Regions from separate parts of the Homo sapiens genome. Here all the other regions are linked to region 2. Evidence: fine-mapped expression QTL. A gene starts in region 2. Each other region holds a variant in brackets. All regions are shown on one strand. Distances are between the middles of the regions. Region 1 holds the start of LOC105375457 (a long non-coding RNA gene). Region 2 holds the start of LSMEM1 (leucine rich single-pass membrane protein 1). Region 3 overlaps LOC105375456 (a long non-coding RNA gene).

The links.
Region 1: its variant is fine-mapped to the expression of LSMEM1 in whole blood (INTERVAL, PIP above 0.99).
Region 3: its variant is fine-mapped to the expression of LSMEM1 in whole blood (INTERVAL, PIP 0.94).

What each region holds. Positions count from the first base shown.
Region 1 is chr7:112,442,248-112,450,436 of GRCh38, reverse strand. LOC105375457 (a long non-coding RNA gene) reads left to right here and starts at 7,087. Exons shown (of 3, transcript XR_001745325.2): 1 at 7,087-8,132. It also overlaps a transcript of IFRD1 not described here. RefSeq lists enhancers at 1-69, 70-887. The variant T/A (reference allele first, on the strand shown) is at 4,608.
Region 2 is chr7:112,476,169-112,484,357 of GRCh38, reverse strand. It overlaps LSMEM1 (leucine rich single-pass membrane protein 1), which reads right to left and starts at 3,367. Exons shown (of 4, transcript NM_182597.3): 1 at 3,012-3,367. IFRD1 (interferon related developmental regulator 1) reads right to left here. Exons shown (of 12, transcript NM_001550.4): 12 at 7,155-8,189.
Region 3 is chr7:112,372,179-112,380,367 of GRCh38, reverse strand. The region is part of intron 2 of LOC105375456 (a long non-coding RNA gene); the gene reads left to right. It also overlaps the pseudogene MTND5P8, the pseudogene MTND6P24 and the pseudogene MTCYBP24. Among named protein-coding and RNA genes, the nearest start is that of ZNF277-AS1, 26 kb to the right of the region's middle. The variant A/G (reference allele first, on the strand shown) is at 3,842.

The sequences.
Region 1 (8,189 bases), 34 kb after region 2:
TTAAGTAGCAATACCGCCACCTGACGTCACTCTGTGGGCGGGGCTTGAGCGCTTCCCAACCAATCCCTGCACACCTCCCCACTGGACGCCTCCGTCGGGCGGGGCGCGGATCCTACCTACAAATCCCATGCGGCCAGTCTTCCGTCCGCGCCCAGGGAGCCTGTCTTCGTGGCCTCACTGAATTCTGGGAAACGTAGTAAGGCTGGGGCCGGGGCCTCCTCCCAGCCGTCTCTTCCCAACGGGCTTTTCTGCCCACTTGCTTTTCTCCTGGTGACCCCACCCCTGCCTCGGCGCGCCCCCGCCTTGGAACTGGGTGAGGTAGGCACCGGCGATGCACAGTGGGGCGAGTATGCCCTATGACGAGAGTCGGCTTCCAGCTGGCAGCTATGCAATCACCTTTGCTTCTCTTTCTCCGGAGGCTGGTGTTCTCCTTAACCTTTCCCCTACTTCCCTGCGGCACCTGCCAGGCACGCAGCCTTACCTCTCCTGGGTAACATTTCCATGGTTTTAGTTTTAACTAGTTCCATGAACTACTTAAGCCATCATCAGTACTGTACCTGTAATTGGACCGTGGTTCAGGGTTATGTGCCCCCCATCCCCCCCCCCCCCCAAAAAAAGGGATGCTTTCGTCTACTTAGTTGTGGAGTTCGTGTATATCTCAGATTCTAGACTAGGAATATATGACGATTCAGCGTTGTGGGTTTCTATACAAGAATGTGTCCCTTGACAATACTACCTGCCAGTTCTGAGAATTTCACAGCTGGTAAAACAAACACAAGTTATACAGATCAATAATCGCAGTGCTGCCTTTTTTCTCAAGGCACTCCTAGATCTCTGTCTTCCTTGTTAGGACATTTGTCTAGTATTTAGAGCCTGTTATTAGGTTCATATACTATGCTTATGACAGATCAAAGTCCCTGACTCACCTCAATGTAGGTGAGTCATCCGCCACTCCACCTCTCAGCTGAGCTCTATTCTATTTTCAATTGCCTGTAGCAAATTTCCACCAGAATGTTCCACTTGTGCCTCAACCCAACATCTCTGAAACGAATACTATATTTCCTTCTTCCTGTCTTCCCTTTGTTCACTGTACTATTTATTATCCTCCCATATGTTAAATTCCAAAACTCAAATTCATAGTCTTTTTTCCCTTTGATGCACCACCCCCTCCCCACCCGCAAAGCAATTAGTTTTAAAATAGCACTCTTAAATTCCTGTCCTATTCTGTGATCACATGTGACCTCAGTTCATGCCTGGGCATTTTAAGCGATCTCCCAGTCTTTTCATCCATGTTTCATGCACAGTAATGCTGCCAGATTTATTTGTGTGTTCCCTATTTTACTAATCCACCTGCTTTAATAGTTGCTCAAAAACATTCCATGGCTCCCATGACTAACTTTAAATGCCAACCCTTTTAGCCTGGCCCTGACTCCCTTTCCAGCCTCATCTTTCACTGCTTCCTCATACAGTTCTTGTTCTTCAGCCAAACAGGACTGCTTTTCATTTCCAATACACGGCTCTCTTCTCCTACCTCCATTTCCTCATTCATATTCTTTCCTGTTCTTGTAATGCCTTTCCTCCCATCTTCACCTTAAGAAATTTTATCCACCGTTCAAGATGTAGCTCATGCTGCCACCTTCCTGAAGCCTCCAGCCAGAAGTTTCTTCCTCCTCACAACTCTTTGACACTCATCCTAATAATGCCCTAATGGCACTTATTACCTCCCCACACGGCCTACTCAAAGATGCTATTTAATGGGCAACATTTCAGGGTTGCTTTTACTTTGTTTAATCCTGAAGCAGCCAGTAAACTGCACAGAGCACAGAAACCAAATACGGAGGCAGGTTGTGGGGGAGGAAGCAGCTCACACTGACTCCTTGTATCTAGAGGCACACTGCAACTCAGTGACAGGGCCTATACAGAATGAGATGTCTCACAGAATTGTAGACTCAATAACTTTTATAACCCTAGGCTCTTCACCATCCAGAAACAATTTATACTATACATAAGGCAACAGTTTTGCCACTCTGGAGTCACATCACCTAGGCCTAACATCCAGGTTCCAGCCCTGGAAACGTGTGCTTTGCATTTGGGGCAGGGGCTTTTTTTCCAAATCCCTTCACATCCACTTAGTCGTTCTGCGGCAGGCCTGGCCATGGCCCACCACATCATATACGTACTTGTTTTACATTTATTTGTGAATACATCTGTCATCTCATGAAATTATCAGCTTCCCAAGAACAAAAATCTTTTCCTCTTTTTAATTTCTTTTCTTTTTTTCTTACTTTTCTTTCTTTTTTTTTTTTTTTTAAATCTACAGGCCCAGGAACTTGAAAAAATCTTGCTGTATCCCTCATGGCACAAAAGGAAGTGTTACATTTGAAATTGAAATTATAGTCAGTATATATATAGTTAAATGAACATTTAAGAAATAATTGTTGACTAGATTTTTCTGGATCAAGGAAAGGGAGAAACTTATGTATCACTACATACATACATTCTGGATCAAGGAAAGGGAGAAACTACTTATCACTACAAACATGAAGTACAGCCTTCAGTATAATGAATTCTGAGAGATACTGTACTTTTGATAAAATTACCTTACTATAGTTTTATGCCTGCAGTTTAGCTCCAGACCAGTGCAAACATCACAAAGATGTAGCCCACCTCCTCATGGGACAGTGGTCTTCAGCTCCACATACTATTTTGCAATATGTTTAAAGAAATTAGAAGACTCCAAACATCAAGTCACTAAATGATTACAAATACCAGAAAGGAAGGGGAAGCACGAAAGGGAACAGGAAAAAGGGCTTTCTCCAGACTTTGCCTTTTTCTTCAGGAAAGACCACACTCCCTAGAAACTTCCACCTACATGTTGACCAGAACTGTGTCACAGGATGATCCCTAGCTGCAAGGAAGTTTAGAACACAAGTATTTTCGGTTGGGCTCATTCGCAAACAAAATTGAGGTTCTGTTGTTAAGAATGAAGGGGAAACCATGGATATAAGGTAGACAAATAGCAATGTCTGCCTCATATATCAGGAGGCAAAATACTCTCATGCTCTAATAAATAAATATCACATATTTGTTACCAACATGACATTATGTGCTGCCTCAACATTTAAGTCATTGTAAAATATATTCTTCTTTTACAAAACAACTTAGTTTAACATTCCATGGAACAGAAATCACCATCAGGGTAAGTATACTCAAATGTTGCAAAAATAAATCTTACATTAATCAGAATTTAGGGGCACGCCTGAGAAGAGTTCTAAGTTCTCATTGATGACTTTGATTCAAGAACAAGTAATAAAGATAAGATTCAGTATTCATACCTTCCTTGAAGGCATAAACATGAAAGGTTTTCTTTGAATGACTTTAGTCATGGCCTCCTTGGGATTCTCTGCATAGCACTGAGCAGAAATAATACCTCCCAGATCCTCCATGTAGGGCTTGTCGGAATCTGTTTCTTGCCTGTATCTCCCAAATCACTTCTCTCATCACCTAACACAGTCCCTTTCCTAATGCCATATCAAACTCTTAGCAGGTCTCTGAGCTCACCACTCTCAAGCTTCCAGGCCTTACCTAGGTTTGGCACATACCTCTCTCTCCATATTGCATCTCCTGCCCCTCTTTTCATCCACTGCATTTCAGCCACACTGGTCTTTGCCAACTTAAAAACACAAAGTTCATTCCCCACTTAAGACTTGCAACAGCTCCTCCCTCTGCCTGATATGATCAACCCGAGCTTCCCACACTTGCCATTCAGATCTGAGCTTAAATGACACCTACCTGAAGAGGCCTTCCTACTCTCCCACTCTTCCACTCTCCATTCTAAGGTCGCATCCTCACCCCACCTACCACCAGCACCTCCACCCTGCTTATATTCTCCCAAAGTACATCGCACTACTTAATATTTTTTGGCCCAATTATTTTTTGTCTCTTCTACTAGAATGTTAGAATTACAAGAAAGAGATCCTGTCTGTTTTATTCACTATTGTATCTTCAGTACTGGAACAGTACGTGGCACTTAGATATTCAATTATTTTTTACTGAATGTTTACACCACTCCTGAGAAGAATAAGCGTAAGCGAAAGAAGGTGAAGCTGGCTGTCCTGAAATACTGTAAGGTGGATGAGAATGGCAAAATAAGTCGCCTTCATCTAGAGTGCTCTTCAGATGAATGTGGTACTGGAGCGTTTATGGCCAGCCACTTTGACAGACATTATTGTGACAAATGTCTCATTGCTTCAGCAAACCAGAAGACAATTAATTGTGTATGAGTTAATAAAAGACATGAACTAACAAAACACATTTACTGAATGAATAAATGTATTAATAATTAAATGTCACTCCTCTGCCTAGAACATCCTTCCCCACGATCTCCCCATCATCCTTTAAGTTACTGATCCTCGGTCACTAATCCTGGGCCCCCCAAATTGTCTGATTTAAATGTCTTTCTTTTTTGTTCTTGCAGTGCCTTCTTTAGACTAGCATTAATTATATGTATTGTAGGGTTTTTTTACTTCTTTTTTTTTAATATGTATTGTAGTTCTTGATTACTTGTCTGTTTTCCCCTCAGACATGAGATACAAGCTACATGCTAC[T/A]TGTGGGCAAAGCCCAGTTTTGTCACTTCTGAAACACACATGTAGCACCTTTGTGCAAATTAGAAACAGAACACCAAGTCTGATGAGTGTTTATGGGCTGGAATCCAGTCACCAATCTCTCTTCAGCAGGGAACAACCTATACATCTGTACATAGTGGCCCAGTAGACAATAACTGTGTTTTTAATTGAATGAGGGAGTCAATTTCCTCTGTATTTTAGCAGTTTTCTTAAAAGCAAAGGAACTAATGTGGGGAAAAGGATGAGGCTAACATTTATTGCAAGTCCACACTGCCACTGTTCTAGACTGTTTTCACACCTCTCATGTAATTCTTACAACAACCCTACGCAGAAAAGATTAGTTTTACCATTTTGTGGATGAAGAAATGAGCTTAGAGAGGTTTTGCAACTTCCCCAAGGTCGTACCATTGGTAAACAGTGCGTCTGTTGTGATGAAAGCCTAGGCCGGCCGGGCGGGGTAACTCACACCTGTAATCCTAGCACTCTGGGAGGCCAAGGTGGGCGGATCACAAGGTCAGGAGATCGAGACCATCCTGGCTAACACGGTGAAACCCCGTCTCTACTAAAAATATAAAAAATTAGCCGGGCGTGGTGGCGGGCGCCTGTAGTCCCAGCTACTCGGGAGGCTGAGGCAGGAGAATGGCATGAACTCGGGAAGCGGAGCTTGCAGTGAGCCGAGATTGCGCCACTGCACTCCAGCCTGGGTGACAGAGCGAGACCCTGTTTCAAAAAAAAAAAAAAAAAAAAAAGAAAGCCTAGGCCTATCTGATTCCAAGTTTGCCTCTGGCTGGCTTTGGTCATATGGGAACCTGAGTGCTTGTTCCTAGGAGTCATGGGTTTTCTTGTTTGCTTTTTTATAATTTCAACTTTTAGATTCAGGGTATAATGTACAGGTTTGTTACATGGTTATATTGCATGATGCTGAGGTTTGGGATATGAATGATCCCGTCACCTAGGTAGTGAGCATAGCACCCAGTAGTTTTTCAACTCTTTCCCCCTCCATCCCTCCCGCCTCTAGTAGTCCCCAGTGTCACTGTTGCTTTTTTATGTCCAGAGTCATGGGTTTTATTTGCAATGCTGCGAGAAAAGGCCCCTTGAAGTTAAATTTTGCCTTGTTCCCCTTTTTTTTAGAGTCTCTTCACCCCTAGTATCAGTATACAGGGGACATTCAGTTGTTGACTGCCTGATGAATGTTTGCCAGTGTAAGTTTTTTCTGATATTTCTAAAGCTTTAGCAGAACTTTATTATTAAATAGTAATGTTATTCCATCAAATAATTTTTTACATGGATTATCACTTGTTGTGTTTTAGATTGCATTGTTTTCTTAATATGTTTGCAATTTTTGTTTTATTGCCAAGAATGGTGATAATACAGCATGCTAAATTTGAGATCCCTGTTTGTTAAGAAATGATTCGGCGGGCAAATTTAGTTAGAACTCTTTAAGCCTTAAGATATATTTTGTTTGCTTTTTTCTTTTTGTTGTGTAGAAGATACTTCTTTGTGGTTTTCAGTTTTGAAATTACATACACTTTCTGTAATGAAATTTCTGACAAAAGACAGTCAGTGTTTAATTGTCTTCTAAAATGGGAATGTTGCTTATCTCACAAAGCTGCAGTATTATCAATAATAAAATATGAGACTGTGTTAACAGGGTACTGTGAGCCATAAGTACCATAATACACACAGCCAAACTAGGATAGTTATGACGCATTATGTTGGAAGAACTTTTTATGGCAACAGCGTAAGTAGGAATTATCTTTTTGTTGAACATAAAGAATATCAGTGGACTTTTCCATTTGGATATCCTGACTCTTCATACCAAACATAACCAAAATCAACTTGTTCTTTACCAACCTCTCTACATTCTACAACTAGTTTTGTTTTTTTGTTTTTGTTTTTGTTTTTTTGGTGGGGGATGGTGTTTGTTTTTTGGGTTTTTTTTTTTTTTTGAAACAGAGTTTCACTCTTGTCACCCAGGCTAGAGTGCCATGGTGCGATCTCGGTTCACTGCAACCTCCACCTCCCGGGTTCAAGCAATTCTCCTGCCAAAGCCTCCCGAGGGATTACAGGCGTTCACCACCATGCCTGGCTAATTTATGTATTTTTAGTAAAGACGGGGTTCATCATGTTGGCCAGGCTGGTCTCGAACTCCTGACAAGTGGTCCACACACCTCGACCTCCCAAAGTGCTGGGATTACAGGCATGAGCCACCACACTCGGCCGTTTTTGGGGGGCTTTTTTTGAGATGGGTCTCCCTCTGTCATCCAGGCTGGAGTACAGTGGTGCCATCACAGCTCACTGCAGCCTTGACCTCCTGGGCTCAAGCAATCCTCCCGTCTCAGCCTCCTGAGTAGCTGGGATACAGACGCATGTATCCCAGCTAATTTACTTATTTATGTTTGTAGAAATGAGGTCTTGCTGTGTTGCCTAGGCTGGTCTCAAACTCCTGGGCTCAAGCAGTCCTCCCAAAGTGCTGGGATTACAGGCATGAACCACCACACCCAGTCTACAACCAGTTCTTGTTCCCAGCTTTCTCCGTGTGGTAGTACTAATCTTACGGCCAACCACCAGAGAATCTTAAATAGTTGAAAATTTCTTAAGGGGTAACCTACTTCAGACTCCTGCCTCACCTGGGAAACGACTGACAACATGATTAAGATCCAAGGCTCTAACTCAGTATTCCAGGGTTCAAATCCTGGCCATACTATTTGCAATGGATTCTTGAGCAAGTAACTTCACTCTTCCATGCCTTGGTTTCAATGTGATTAATGATAGAACCTATTTCATGTGGTTGGAATGAGGAATACATGAAACAATACAAGTAAAGTACTTAGCTCAGTACTCAGCACATAGTAAACAATGTTAGCCATTAATATTAGTCAACAGATATTTATCATTTTTTCTTAAACTCTGACAGTGCTAGAACTCACACAACTCTTCAGGGAAGCTCATTCCAACAGTGGATATTTGTCATATTTTGAAAAGTCTCAATTCCTTCAACAAATATTCCTCAGGTGTCCACTATATACCAAGCATGTTCTAGAGCATGAGAACAAAGAGATGACTGAAAACAGTGTTTGTCCTCATAAAGTCCCTAGTCCAGCAACAGAACTCAGTACCAGGTGGCCCGTGGCTGTCCGTCCCTCTCAGCCCATTTGGAGGTGACTCTTGCTTCTCTCTTGATGGATCAGCTTTCACTGCCCACCCCCAGGGACATGACCAAAGAGGTTCCTCCTCTCTACCCCTAAGCGGTGAGTCCATAGGCTCCCTGGAGAGTTCAGTCATCTCTTCTGGAGCAAGTCACCTAGCAGCAGTGAACCTCCATTTCTTTATCTCAAAAATGGGAGTCAATAATCCCTGCCTTATTGATGTCACTGGATTGTCATAAAAATGACATCATTATGTAAAGGTCTTTGTAACCTGCCACGTACTCTATAATGATGAGATACTCCTTATATTAAACCAAAGAAAGAAATGACTCTGCTAAAGATGGAATTTTAGACATCAGTAAGCAAGGGAAGATCTTTTGGCTGGGAGCTGATAAAGTGGTTAACAGGAGAAATT
Region 2 (8,189 bases):
GTGGCCACAAAACATTCTGAAAAAAGAGAATATTACCATGAACCATTCTAATTGCAGGAGGCTTTAATAGAAAATTGCAATTTTTATAGCCTCCCTCCATATGGCATGTAAGTCCTTCTCTTCACACAATTCCTTTAGCCATAAGATGCTGACTGTGAGTCCCCAAGACAACAATCTTAGCAAACTTAGCTGCTATAGAGAGGAATGCTGCTAGACTTCAGGACCTCTGAGATCTCTTCCACCTGGGTTTCCCTTAGACTGAGGTCACTTATGTAATAGCTTGAGGTTTATTAAATATTGAAAGTAATATTCTCTAACGACAGCACAACTGCAAGCAACACTGAAAATCCTGAAGAGTTTAAAAGGTTTATGTGGAGATGTATCTCTAGCACAACAGAGAACTTGTGGCCATTTAATTATGTGAAAAGAAGCCTCTAGAAAGACAAATTTCAATTACTATAAAAGCTTTTCCTTTCATGGTTATCAAGTCTAATCGTGATAGAGGATGTTTGGATCTAGAAAGGGTGTTAGATGTGCTTTAGTTCCCATCCTTTCCGCAAATGAGGAAATGGAAGCTCGGCGAGGTAAATGCCCAGGATCACACATTTGCCTGGCAGCAGAGCTGGAATCGGGCCTTTTGTTCAGCATTCAATGAGTCTTGCTTTGTGCTACTTTTCTTTTCTATATCCCTTCCTAATCCTGCCTCAAGACTCAGCTCAAACATCACTTCCCCTAGGAAGAGAGAACCAACCTGTCTTTCCTTTTGCCTTTGCTGGATTCTTTACATTCTTCTATCAGAACATCTGTAGTATTTTATTGCATCTATTTGCTTACATCTTTGATTTCCCGATAGACTGAAAACTCCTTAGAGTAGGGACGAATCCTATTCTTCAAATGCCCAGTGCCAGGTTTAGAAGTTGGTGACTTATGTTAAGATGGAACACCTGAAATGTTTATTTAGGATTTAAATCTCACCATTTTCAAAAGAATTGGAGGCAGTTAATAATAAGTACATGAACAGAAATAAGATTGAGGATAAAAATCCTCATGTGATGTCTATCTGGACTCTAGTAAAGTCAATGCGATAAATATGGTGCCTGTGTGTATTTGACAACACACTGTTTACTTTCTGTTGTTGCAAAAATTTCCTTTAAAACTCATCTACAGAATGAAGAGCAATATAGAGTTGGGAGAAACCAAATTCATAAAAAAAAAAAAAAAGTATACACCTAAAGAAGATGTGGGGAAAAAAAGTATCAGACACTTACTGAGCAATTTAAACTTAGTCTAAAATATTAAAAAAACAATTTCCCAGTAATACCTAAAACTACTGGTACTTGTGAAAAATGTGCTACCAGAACCCTAGCTAAGAAAGTGAGCTCAAAAAGTCATGGACTAAAAATTTTTTTTAGGGTTAAAACTAAAAAAGTGTGTTTCACTTATCTTGAAATTTTAATTAACAAGAACAAACAATTCCCTGAGTTTTCAGATAAGATACTACCATAGCACTTTATTGACATTACTGAATTCCAAATATACTTCATAGAGCATTCCTAAGGAAATGACTTGATATGACAATTAAAAAAAATTAAAAAGCAGCAGCAAATAGAGTAAAAGGGCCTTAGAGGTCAGTCAAATCTTATCCTTTTGCAGTTAAAACCAAGGCCCCAAAATATTCACTCATGCATAGTCACAGATTTTAAAACAATTCTTTTAGATGTGTTTCATATTTTATCATCCATTTATACTAATATTTGACCAAACAGTAATATGTGACCAGGAAAAAAAGTTTTATGTGTCACATCACAGGACCACTGTTCTGCACACAGCTTCTATTTTAGGTGTGGTAACTGAAGCATGGTTCATTTTTGGATCTCTGACTTAATAGCCTTGAGCCTTAGCTTCCCCTTCAGGAATGTATCTGCTGTTGCTTCAATTTCATACTGAGGCTTAATCAATGTTTACAAAATAGAGACCTAGCTAGAAAATCATGGCCACAAAAACTGACTTTAAGAGTACAGCTAATAAAATCTCCATATTACTGGTCTTGCTATCTACTCAAAAGGTGACTCCAAAAAAAACTAAGACAACAACCTAGTGAGCCATGACGTGCTTTGAAAGAAAATGTCTTCTTTAGAGTGAAGTCACAATGTAAATATATGCTATTCCAATATTTTTTTAATGAGCTGCAACACGCAAATGGAAAAATAAAGAACTAGCAGAGAAAACTGAGTTGGGTGCTGTTCCAGGGCTCCAAGAGCCTGCAAATGACTTGCAAATGACTCATGAGGCTGCTAGTAAAGGGATACAAGATCACATGGCCTTAAAACCAGGCCCCACGGCTGTTTGACACCCAGTAGTTGCTATCTTTGGCATCTCCAAATGAGGGCATCTAGGAACAACCAGCAAGGCTGGAGAAGCCAGTGTTACTAGCAATTCTTCATCACACTAACTTGACCCTCCTTTCAACTCCAGTGTGCAAATTTGCTTATTCACCAAGATTGGCTAAAGCAGCATCCCTTTAACAGAACCCTTTCTTATACCTTGACTGGAAACATGTAAGTAATTTCATTTTCCTCTGGTTTAGATCACTGCTAACAGTTGATTTTTTGTCATTTAAGAATTCTTTGACTATTTACAAATAAATATTCCAACAAATAAAGATAATTGTCTATGAAAAATTGCCTGGTGCTTTATTTTTTAACCAGGCAGGTGCTTGGTATCAAACCACAGAAATAACTCACACCAGTATTGCTTGCCACAAAATCAGAATTGTTATAATAGGGCATAATTCAAAGCTAATAAGCAGTGTTATTGAATGAGTCATGGTAATTTGTTCTTTAATTTCATTTCCCAGTCAATGCCTCTTCACATTCAGGAAGTAATTTTTAAAATCAAGTCTAAATCATTTCTATCAAAAATGAAAAACACAGAGCACATGCAACAAAAACTTCCCAGACTCGAGAATCATAATTCAGTCTCAGTAGAGTAATAGCATGCAAATTACTTACAAAAATGTGAGCTTTGACTGCTAGGTTACCAGAAAAACAAAACAAAACAAAACAAACAAACAAAAACTAATTGTTCAGAAGCAACTACAACAAAACTTTTCTACAAATTCTGTAGTTCTCTCTTTGCCTTTCTTCAGCATACGGGTGCTCCTATGAGACCCATAAGCCCCAGGATGAAACTGTTGGTCTATATTGTGTCAATTTAGCCAAGCAGTGTAAGATTCCAAATCCTGACTTTTTTCATAATGTCTAAGGTTTTTAGTAAATATATTACTAAAACTATGCTTTAAAAAGAAAACAACAAAAAAACACCATGCCCTGATTTAGTTGGTAACTGATGAGGTTTTTATTGGACTGAAGTTACCGTCCTTATCTGGCTGAAGCAACTGTTAGCTGACACCACCTTTCCAGCACTCCTGCCATGGTATGCTTCCATATATAAATATCCTGTAGCAGGCGGAAGCTGCCACTATGATGACTGACTTGCAAACACTCCAGACAAACCAGAGAACTGCAATAAACACGGACAGAATATGATTATGACATCATAACAAGGATGATGGCAGGTCAGACGCCTAGTGCTTCCAGTAGCTACAAAAAGCGATTGTGAGTGGGCGATTTCATGGATACAGACCCACCACAGGTGAAGGAAGCACTCCATCTCATCGGCCGCCTTTCCTTTACAAAGGCTTTGTTCTGTGAGTGTCTGCACATCCTCCTTTCTCAGGAATAACAGCCTTCCATATATGTGGTTCCCTCACATACATGCCAAGGAGCTTCTGCCCTCTGCTGTACATAAAAGATGCTACAGTGATGAGGAGACCAACTATCTCAGCAGGATACTAACAGTGAGGTTGTGAACAACTGTGCAATCCTTTATCATCCTCACTTCCATTGCCATAGCTTGATGGACATTATTCATCTTTGAAACATTTTTCATGTCAGTGAGAAAATAGGTGTTCCACAAAATTTTCTTTGAGACAGAGTCTTGCTGTGTTGCCCAGGCTGGAGCGCAGTGGCATGATCCCAGCCTACTGAGACCTTCCTGCTTCCAGATTCTCCTGCCTCAGCCTCCCAAGTAGCTGGGATTACAGGTATGTGCCACCATAGCTGGCTAATTTCTTTATTTTTAGTAGAGATGGGGTTTCACCATGTTGGTCAGGCTAGTCTTGAACTCCTGACCTCAAGTGATCCACCCACCTCGGCCTCCCAAAGTGCTGGGATTACAAACTTGAGCCACCATGCCCGGCCCAAAATTTTCTTTACACCTATATCCCATACGGACCTCACTCTGCTTTGGGGGAAGAGGAATGTCATTTTTTTTTTCCCTTCACACTACCTAGTCTAAGAGGGAATGTCATTTTTTCAAGCCTCATCTGTACCCAAAGACTAATTCTTGGAGGAAGACAATATAACTAGTAACTTTTCTCAGAAACATACGTTAAAAAGCTATGTCAAATTTCTCTGAATAATGAAAATGTTCATGTTAGCTATTATGCTGTTTTTAAGAAATCTCCCAACTACCTGATCTGCCTTGAGCCATGTATCCTTTGAAGATATAATAGAAGTAACTGCCTCATTTTGGGGCGTTTACTACTTTTCCTCTCCTGTAACTTCTAACTTTGTGGAATATTAACTTCCCCTGAAGGAGGAAGGAAATGGAGACTAAGGAATTTAATTGTTGAGGGATACACTGATTATAAGTGGCAGAGATGAGATGTAAACCCATACCTCGCATTCAAGTCTGAATTGAACTATACACCAGTGAGGGGGATAAGACTGCCTTTAGACCAGTTAGACTTCTGGAAAGCCACTTAAGAACAAAGCAAGACAACCTACTTCATTTTAACTATAACATACCTGCAAGACCACCTTTAAGAAGAGTTTTGGGGCCGAGTGCGGTGGCTCATGCCTGTATTCCCAGCACTTTGGGAGGCCGAGACAGGCAGATTAACTGAGGTCGGAAGTTCGAGACCAGCCTGACCAACAAGGAGAAACCCCATCTCTACTAAAAATACAAAATTAGCCGGGTGTGGTGGCACATGCATGTAATCCCAGCAACTCAGGAGGCTGAGGCAGATTATACCATTGGACTCCAGCCTGGGCAACAAAAACGAAACTTCATCTCAAAAGAAAAAAAAAGAGTTTTGGGTCACAAAAAGAGATATTCTCACATGAAGTGTCTAATCTAGGGACATTCTCAAGTATTTGCTTTTTCTTTCATATATTACATCTCAGGGTATCTAAATTCACTCCCAGGAAATTTAGTACCCATCAAAGAGGAGTCACAGACAATGAATACTTCAAAATGCTTGAGCCTCAAAATAATGAAAGCGGGCAAAATTAATCAAGAATCAAGCAATGAACAACTAGTCTATAACACAACATTTTTCTACTTTCAAGAAAACACAAGCATTCTTACACATTGAACACCCAGCCACCCTTGTCTAGCAGTTACCACAAGTTTCATGAATAAAGTCACCTGCATATAAATTCAACATGCAGATTAACACTCTATACCTTCTTCCTCCCAAAAGCCCAGTAAAAAAGCAGGAGTACAAATTACAAAACCAGAAAAATTAAAATAGGAAGAAACAATACTGAAGAGCTCAATAAATGTATTGAACATGGTAAGAAGAGTGGTATCTGCCTTAGCAGGGCTATCACAGATGAGTGACAGTAGGACTGATCCTGCAGAATTCAGGCAGGCCTAGGATTTAGAGGCAAGAGTGTGGCATGGAGCTACACAGAGGCAAGTAATTTAATGCTAGCCAAAAACAAAATGCAATACAAATTGGAAAATTGTCTTAGAGAAATATCCCAGACAGAAAAAAAAAAAATAAATAAGGCCCAAGATTCAATTTGGGAGCTCCACTATGTCATAGAGTTCCAGAACAAAGAAAATGAGGAGGAAGAGAAGAGATGAAGAACTTAATATTTTCCAGGTTGCCAATCCCACCAAAGCACAGTATCATGCAATTTTAGAACACTAGAAACAGAGATGCTGAGAAAACAAAGAAATAAAAATAAAAACTGCATCAGATATCTCAAGATTTTGCAAATTAGAATAGAGCAATGCCTTCAAAATTCTGAATTTGAATACACTTGTCAAAATTTTCAAAAATTCCAAATTTGATTTTCCACCTAGAATTTCCATGCAAACTATCTTTCAGAAATATGAAGTCACTAAATAACTGACTGATCTCTCACGCACTCATTCCCAAGAAACTACTGAAAGAAGTGCTCCATGTTAACAAAGAAGTAAATTAAGACATGGGATCCAGAAAATGAGGGATACAATTCAAGAGAAAGAAAAACAAATCCTCACGATAGTGCTGTCTCAGGAAAACTGCTATACAATTGGATGAGAGAAACTAGTCTAGATTGAAACAAGTACAGAATCAAGAAAAGTTGTGACAAATTTATTTGGGACTGTTTGGGAAGAATCAATGATGTGCATAAAAAGCCAAAAAAAAGAGCATTAACTCCAAGACAAAACGTTGTATGAGAATGAAAATGTAAGCACATTAAATTAATTCACGAGTGAACATACAAGTATGATCACAGCTATGCAAACAGGTACATGATCTAACCAAAATAATATTAGAAGGATGTGAAACAATAAAAGAAATTTTCACCTGTCTTAATAGTAAGTTGACAAACACCTAAAAAATAAATGGCTGTATAATCATATTATTTAGAAACCTAAAACCAAAAACTGAAGGCTGAAAGAACCGAGCTAGAAAAAACTGAAGGCTGAATGTCTCTTGGGATGGGACTGAGGAATAGGAAAGGATGGAGCAAGGGGCTTTCCTTATTAGCCTTGAAGTACCATTAAACTATGTTCAGGCTGGGCACGGTGGCTCATGCCTGTAATCCCAACACTTTGGGAGACCAAGGCGGGCAGATCACTTGAGGTCAGGAGTTCAAGACCAGCCTGGCCAACATGGTGAAACCCCATCACAACTAAAAATATAAATTAGCCAGGTGTGGTGGAACACACCTGTAATCCCAGCAACTCAGGAGGCTGAGGCAGGAGAATCGTTTGGACCCTGAAGGCAGAGGTTACAGTGAGCCAAGATTGCGCTACTGCACCCCAGCCTGCGCAACAGAGGGAGACTGTCTCAAAAACAAACAAAAACCTATGTTCATACAACACTTTAATAAAAATTCATTATTTATTTATAATTACATGTACATACATATATGCATTTGAATATCTAGAAGAAACTACCATTTGCAATCTCTTTTCCATGGTTCTAACCTACTTGGAACATAACCAAGTGACAACATACAAACAAGTTCTAGATTCTAAACCTGTTTTCCACTGCACTGTAACTGGGGGATGGGACTCAGCAACAGTGACTCCATAAGCCAGCAAATGATTTTCACCTAGAGGGAGCACCAGACTTCCAAGAGTTGTTGGGATGTGGGAGGGGAACACTAGTTTGGAAAAAAGACCTTAAATGATTTTGATACTTCTCCCTACAGTATATATGCTTCCCTACCCCTCACGGCGACCTACAGCAAGAGTATCAAAGAAACAAGTCTACGGATTTGAAATGGCATGTTGCTTGCACTATATATTTTAATCTAAAGTTTATTAAATGTTAACGTGTTGTCAAAATGCTTTTCATAAAATGAAAGAAATATACCTCATGGGCAAACAAGCAGCAATATTCTTTTTTGTTTTGCTTTTGAGACAAGGTCTCACTCGTCACCCAGGCTGGAGTGGCACAATCACGGCTCACTGCAGCTTTGACCTCCTGGGCTCAAGTTACCCTCTTGCCTCAGCACCCAAGTAGATAAAGAGTAGAAGCACACACCACCACACTCATTTTTTAAATTTCTGGTAGAGACAGGGTCTCGCTATGTTGCCCAGGCTGGTCTCAAACTGGGCTCATGCCATCCTCCCGCCTCAGCCTCCCCAGAGTGCTGATTATAGGCATGAGCCACACTGCATGTTGCCAAGCAGAAATATTCTTGAAAGTCAGAAACCTTAATCCCAATTATGTATTGCTACATTCTTTTCATCTACTTTAATGTTTGTAAATATACACATAAAGCTTTGTCTCCCTGCCCACCTGGCCTAGTCATTTTGGACTCTGTACCTCAAAGCCATAAATAATATTTCTTCTATTAGAAGAGAAGCACTTTCAGTGTGGAAAAAAATCTTTA
Region 3 (8,189 bases), 100 kb after region 2:
TTCTAAAATTGGGGTAATAACACCATCTATCTCATAGCAGTGTTGTAAAGCTCAAACACATATTAACAATTAAATTACTTATAACAGGGTCTAGCATGCAAGAATAATTAACTATAGGGCAAATTGTATTTAATTAGAAGGATATATCATAATTAATAATGCCCTATAAATGGCCGGTTAGTATATTTTGATAGATAGCTGTTAGCCATACTGGAGGCACCAATTCAAATTTTAACTTGTTCTTTTATGCTTCCCTTTAGACACATGATACCAAAGTATTTAGCCTTTTATAAGGTAGGATATTTCATAAATCTGAGAAAGCTAAGTGCAGGAAACATCCTGCCCTGGAATAAATTTAGTTGGATCTATATCTCACACAACACATAAGGATAAACTCTAAGGTCATCAAAGACTTCAAGATAAACTGGGAAAAAAATGAAGCATAAAAGTTCTAGAAGTAAGCTTGAGAGAATTGCTATATAACTTTAGAGAGGGGAATACTTTCTAACTAAAAGGAAAACAGAAGCCATAAAAGATTCAACTATATAAAGGGGGAAAAGAACTACAACTACATTTATGTGCATGATACAGACACTACAAAGTAAAAAAAATCAAGAAAGTTTGTATTTCATTTAAAGATGAAAGGGTAATCTTGGTATATAAGATGTGCTTAGAAATTGTGTGTGTGTGTGTTGTTTTTTTTTTTAAAAAAAGACCAAGAATCCAGGGGGGAAAAATGAGCACAGGACATGAGCAGATAGTTCACATAGAAATAAACATTCAAGGCTCATAAATATATACAAATGTTCAAACTCACACATAAGAGAAATGCAATTGAAGCTATACTAAGATATTATTTTCCCTATCAGATTAGTAAAATCCAGAAGTTTGACAACATTCTGTTGGTAAGACTGTGGGGAACAGGCACTCATATATCACTAAAGAAAGTATAAATTTGGTTCAAACTTTTTGGAGGACAACTTGGCAACATCTATTGCAGTAAGCTAAATGGTGGCCCCAAAGACCTGTTCATGTTCTAATCCCTGGGACCTGGGAATATTCATTTATATGACAAAAGATTAAGTTAAGGATCTTGAAAGGAGGCATTTACCCTGAATTATTTGAGTGGGCCCTAAATGCAATCACATGTGTAATATGATCACATGTATAATAAGACCACATGTGCAATAAGAGAGAGGCAGAGGGAGTTTTTAAGTGACATACAGAGAAGATATAAAGAGAGGAAGGCCATGTGAAGCTGCAGGCAGAGACTGGAGTGATATAGCTGCAAGCCAAGGAGCTCTTACAGCCACCAGAAGCTGGAAGAGGCAAGGAATGGATTCTCCTCTAGAGTCTGAAAGGGATGTGACCCTGCAGACACCTTTTTTGCAGACTTGATTTCAGAATTCTGGCACCCAGCATTGTGAGACAGTAAATTTCGTTGTTTTAAGCCACCAAGGCTGCAGCAATGTGTTACAGCAGCCACAGGAAACTAATACATAATTAAACTTACAAAGATTAGTAAAATTAGAAATTCAAACAAATTACAAATAAAATGCAATGACAAATATAAATGTTGGAGACATGACCATCCCTCTTCCCACTCAGAGGCAGTTGGAAAGGTGAAAGAGCACACATTGGCTGACCACTGTGACAGAGGGTGCTGCTGCTGACATTTTGGGAGCAAGGAGCAGTAATACTAAACAGGCATGTCAGTGTTGTGTGTAATAGTAACAGATTGGAAATGACCCAAATGTCCTTGGAATAGTCAAATAATAAGTTGTTATATATCCATACAATGGACTACTATGCAACTGTTTTAAAAGATTGAGAAACTTCTCGATGAACTAATATGGAAATATTCCAAAATATGTTAAGTGGAAAGGGCAAGGTATAAGACAATATACACAGAATGCTAACATTTATATAAAAGGGAGGGAGGAGAATACAAAGCTATATTCATATATAATTTTATAAATGTGATTATCCAAGAAATGGTTTGCAGGCAGAGGTGAGAATGTGATGGATGAAATTAGAGTGGCAATTAGGCTTTTCACAATTTGACTTTTGCTATATATTTTTAAAGTTTTTAATCATGTGAATATAGTGCTATTAAAATATATATATATATCTGCCGGGCACAGTGGCTCACGCCTGTAATCCTAGCACTTTGGGAGGCCGAAGCGGGCGGGTCACGAGGTCAGGAGATCAAGACCATCCTGGCTAACACGGTGAAACCCCGTCTATACTAAAAGTACAAAAAGTTAGCTGGGTGTGGTAGCACGCGCCTGTAGTCCCAGCTACTCGGGAGGCTGAGGCAGGAGAATCGCTTGAACCGGGGAGGCGGAAGTTGCAGTGAGCCGAGATTGCACCACTGCACTCCAGCCTAGGTGACAGACAAAGCAAGACTCTGTCTAAAAACAAACAAACAAACAAACAAAAAACTAAGGCATGAAAAATCTAAGGCTTTCCTCAAACACTTGTGGAGCCTGTGGCCAGAGTACAGATGGAAAGCTACATACTGTAAGTCTAAACATTTAAAAGCTATAAATCAAGCTGGGTGCGGTGGCTCATGCCTGTAATCCCAGCACTCTGTGAGGCCTCTGCAGGCAGATCATTTGAGGCCAGGAGTTCAAGAACAGCCTGGCCAACATGGTGAAACCCCATCTCTACAGAAAATAAATAAATAAAATAATGAAAGTTATAAGTCAAGCCAACAAACAGTTAATTAAAATATGTTCTCTTCTCCTACTTTGAAAAACCTGCTTAATGACAAAATAGAAAAAAGATAAGTATAAAATGTAAAATTTGGCAAAATATCAAACATGATAAAATTAAATTATTATTGTGCATGTCTGGGTGGTCCATTGATAGTCTGGAGATGTTGAGAAGAGCAGTAAATAAAGGCATTTAATTCACAGTGTATTTTATATTTTTTCCATATGTTATTTTTTCCTGTCTTCATTTCAATAAAATCACTAATTATGTAGTTGTAAGCAAGATTTTTGCATAATTCGACTCCTGTAGACAGTAATACCAAATTAGATAATATTTCTTGAGTAATTAAAGTTTTTAGATGTTTTTCTTAATTAGTTTCAATTTGAGGAAACTTCTCTGCTGAGGCAAAAACAACTGGACTTGTCCATAACTTTTCAAAGTAACATTTAGATTAGAAACAAACCATAAAATTTACATATCATGTTCAAACATTATAATGGCATCTTCACTTTAGTTACATTATATAGATCACTAGCACTCAATTGCTCTTCTCTCCATCTCTCAAATAAATATTTAGATCTATACAGTATTTCTTAAATTTCAAAAATTTCGAGCCAGGCACAGTGGTTCACACCTGTAATCCCAGCACTTTGGGAGGCCAAGGCGGATGGATCACTTGAGCTCAGGGGTTCGAGGCCAGCCTGGGCAACATGACAAAACCCTGTCTCTAAAAAATAAAATTAAAATGTCAGTGCTGAGAAATTGTAAAGCAAACTAGAAGTAGCATATGTCCTTCAGTGTTCTATTCAAAGGACTCAAACTCTCGAACTTGCCCAGATCTTCCTGAAGTATGAATACCATTGGCTTCTTTTAAATTGGGAGACTATGTAAATGAAAATAAAATAAATTATGAAAAAGCATCTGTAATACCTAAAAACCTATTATTACAAAGATCGATAATGTGGTTTTAGAAAAAAAGGAACTCTGAAGTAAATCGACACAGGTGAGGATGTGGTCAACATAATGCAGTCAGCAACAAACTAACTCTTCTTTCAAAATATCTCAAATCATAATAGAACTGCAGATGCAATAGCAAACAATTTCACAGAACTGCTAAGAGCAC[A/G]TAGGAAAACCCAAACCAGCCATCTCAGACAGATGGAGATGAATGCATACAGCTATACAGTAAAACTTTCTCTAAAGAGAGTTGCTAGGGGAAGAAAAATTTCAAGTCTCTGAAGAGAAGGTAATTAATCCAATTATTTCAATGAACTTGAGTTTCTCCTTGCTACAATGTTTCTGGAGTATTTATGTGGTTGTAACCTTGACAGTGTGGTCATCTATTTATAATATAGCAGCAAGGGTCTGATACAAAATTCTAATATCATAAAAGTACATCATTAAAATGCTTTATATGGAGTAAGAATTTGAAATTCTGATTACTCACTAAAGGGATATATCTTAAAGTTAATAAGGGAAAGTGGTTACAGTGGAGAGAGAAAACAGAAAGAAAACTGAAGGAGGTCAACTGTAGAAAGAGGACTGGATGAAGTGGGCACTGAATGGATTGACTTATCAAGGGAGACCTATGTTCTTCATAACCCCTATGCTCACCTCTCCAACATGTAAATCACATTGTGTGGCCATGGCCTTTTTATTTGACTGTCTCACTGCTGTACTATAAGCTTAAGGATAAGATGATGACTGTTGTGTTCTCCATTGTGTCTCCAGCAATTACACAAGGTCTAACATACAGTAGGTACTTACTGGTAGATGTTAACTGGATGGATGGATGGGTGGGTGGAAGGATAGAGAGGGATGGAGGAATGGAGGGGTGGGTGGATGGGTGGATGGGTAGACAAGTGGATGAATAGACGAATGGACAGATGGATGGATAGATGGGTGTCAAGAAGCTGCAGATTCCTTGGCTACAATAATTAGGAGTTTCCTCATATCCATGGGAAGCTCAACTGCCAATGCCACAGCCATAGCCACAAACATCTCTCAGACACCACTAATCAATTAGTACTGTTAGTTGGTTAATACTGACATAGTAGTTAAAGTGTGTGCTGTGAAAAAATTCAGGCAGTAGTTTAATTAGAATTTCAGCTTTGGCTGTTGACGGTGAAGCGGGAATGCTTTCTCCCTGAGTTGCCCCGGGGAGGGGATTCTCCATTTCTGGTTTATAAGACCAGAGTATGGAATTGTACTACAAGGACATTTTCATTTAAGAAGTTTATTTTCAATTACGGTAGTGAGTGGTATAAGGGTGAGAATGGTAGAGAAGTACATGATAGATGCTGTCTGTCCGATGGCAATGAAAGGATATTTGACTGGCTGCCCTCTGATTCATGTGAGTGTAAGCAGGTCAGCCACTAGGATTCAGAATAGGCATTGACTTAATAACTTATTATGCTTTGTTGTTTAGACATGTGAAGTACTGGAATAACTGCTAGAATGAGAATGGAATATACGAGGGCCAGTACGCCTCCTAATTTGTTAGGGATAGATCGTAAGATTGCATATGCAAACAAAAAGTACCGCTCTGGCTTAATGTGGGGTGGGGTATTGAGGGGGTTGGCTAAAGTGTAATTATCTGGGTCGCTCAGGAGGTCGGGAAGGAGGAGGAGAAAAATTAAACCTAGAACATCTTTGGTTGTATATTGTCGGGGGGAAGTGATTTTGTCGGGGTCTGATGAAACTCCTGAAGGGTTGTTAGATTCTGTTTCATGCAAGAATAAAAGGTGAACAGTTGCTAGAGCTGTAATGACGAAAGGTAAGATGAAATGGAAGGCAAAAAATCGTGTGAGGGTGGCTTTGTCAAATGAGAATCCCCCTCAGATTCATTGTACAAAGTCAGTTCCAATATATGGGATGGCTGATAGTAAATTTGTAATTACTGTAGTGCCTCAGAATGATATTTGGGCTCATGGGAGCACATAGCCTATGAATGTTGTTGCTATAGTTGTGAATAGGAGAATAATGCCAATATTTCAGGTTTCTGGGAATAGTAATGACCCGTAGTATAACCCTTGGCCAATGTGTAAGAAGAGGCAGATGAAAAATATTGAAGCACCATTAGCATGAAAATAGCAGACCATTTATCCGTAGTTTACCTCTCAGCTGATATGAGTGACTGAAGAGAAGGCAGTTGAGGTGTCTGATGAACAGTGCATGGCCAAAAATAATCCTGTGATGATTTGGAGAATTAGGCAGGCACCAAGAAGTGAGCCAAAGTTTCATCAGGTAGAAATGCTGGAGGCTGTGGGAAGATCAATGACTGAATAGTTAATTTTTATTAGCGGGTGTCTTTTGCGGGTATTCGTCATCAGTATTCTTACAGTTGAAGTACAATGATGGTTTTTCATATCATTAGGTCATGGTTATAGTCCATGTGGAATAATGGTATATGCTTTATTTTTATTAAATGTTCTCTTGGTTATAGAGTTCGTAGGCTTTTCTTTGAAACCTTCTCCTATTTATGGAGGCCTAGGGCTAATTATTAGTGGTGCTGTGGGTTGTGGTATTGTGTTGAATTTTGGTGGGGCTTTCGTGGGGTTAATAGTCTTTTTGATTTATTTGGGTGGTATGATGGTTGTTTTGGGTTATACTGCGGCAATGGCTATTAAGGAATACCCTGAAACACGAGGGTCAAGTATAGACATTTGAGGAGGTTTATTATTAGGATGATTAATAGAGTTGATGTTGGTTCAGTGAATAGTTGAGTACAATGGGCTGGTGATCACAATTGATTTTAAAGTGTAGAGAGTTGGATAATTTTTGAGGGTGAGGGGGTGGGGTTGTGTGAGGATTCTGTGGGTGTGGCTGCCTTCTACAGTTATGGGTGTTGATTAGTGGTAGTTGCTAGTTGATCATTATTTGTTAGTATTTATGTTGCAATTGAAAATACTTGGGGTAATAGATTAGATAATTAATAGTAGTGTTAGAAGGGATGGGATAAAAAAAGAGAGAAAGTAGAGTTTTATTAGGCCTTTTTGAGTAGATACAGTAATGGAGGCTGAAACTTAGATTTGTGAGATGGTCATTGGTATAGACTTTTCTAGTCAAATTACGTCTAGTAGAAGTGAAGCCACATTTTGGTTTGTGAATAGGCTTGAGTGGGGGGTTGAATGGTTGATTGTGGCTGAATAAAAACCTAGTATATTGGAGAAGCTGAATGTCTGTAATGGGTACTTTAGTTTGAGGTTATTAGTTATGAGATTAAGCTCCATTGCTAGTAAGAGGCCTAAGGTGGTTACACCTAGGGCTTTGAGCTTTAAGTGGAGTGGTATAATTGTTTGGGGGGATGAAGCAGGAATAGTACTGTTGGTGATGAGGAACCCAGAGAAGATACTGCTGTATTGTTAGGTGCTTAATTGAGTTAATTAGGAAGGGTTATTTTCGTTAATAATAATCAGAGTTGTGAAGCGAGATTGTCCTATGAGAACGAAGAAAATAATACAGGTACTATAGACAGCTGTTAAGGAGGTGGCAATAAGAGCAATAGAAAGGGCTCAGGTGTTGGTGTATGATGTATTTGCGGTTTCTATAATAAGGTCTTTAGAGTTAAAGCCTGTGAGGAAAGGCATACCTGTAAGTGCAAGGCTACCAATAGTAAGGGAGGAGGAAGTGAAGGGTAAAGTCTTGAACAGTCCTCCTATTTTTTGGATGTCTTGTTCGTCATTGAGGTTATGGCTGATGGAGCCTGAACATATAAATAATATAGCTTTAAAAATGGCATGCGTGCAGATGTTAAGGAATGCTAGATGTGGTTGATTAATGCCAATTGTGACTATTATAAGGCCCAGCTGGCTTGAGGTGAAGAACGCTATGATTTTTTAAATATCATTTTGTGTCAGAGCGCAGATCGCTGTAAATAAGGGGGTAATGGCCCCCAGACATAATGTAAAGGCTTGGATTGGTAGACTATTTTCTATTAAAGGGTAGAAGCGGATGAGCAGGAAAACTCCTGCTACAACTATAGTGCTGGAGTGGAGTAGGGCTGAGCAAGCACAACAGCTTGCTCAAATTCCCAGTGTTCACCTAAAAGGAATTCCAAATATTGGAAGAGAAATTTTAGAAGTCCAAACCTAAAAAAAATAGAAAATATACCACTTTCTCATAACTGGCAACATTTTTCAGGGATAGTTCTGGTCAGGATCAATGTAATTTTTTTAATGAAATATTTTATTAACAGTGTTATTGAGAAATAACTCACATATGATTCCCCCACTTAAAGTACACAATTCAATGGGTTTATAGTATATTCACAGAATTGTGCAACTATCACCACAATGAATTTTGGAACATTTTCATCACCCCAAAAAGCAATCTTATTAGCAGTTTACTTCCCATTTGTCCAGATCCTGGAAACCACTAATCTGCTTTCTGTTTCTATAGATTCCCTATTCTGGACACTTCATATAAATAGAATCATATGACGTTTGGTCTTTCTTCAATTAGTGTGTAATGTT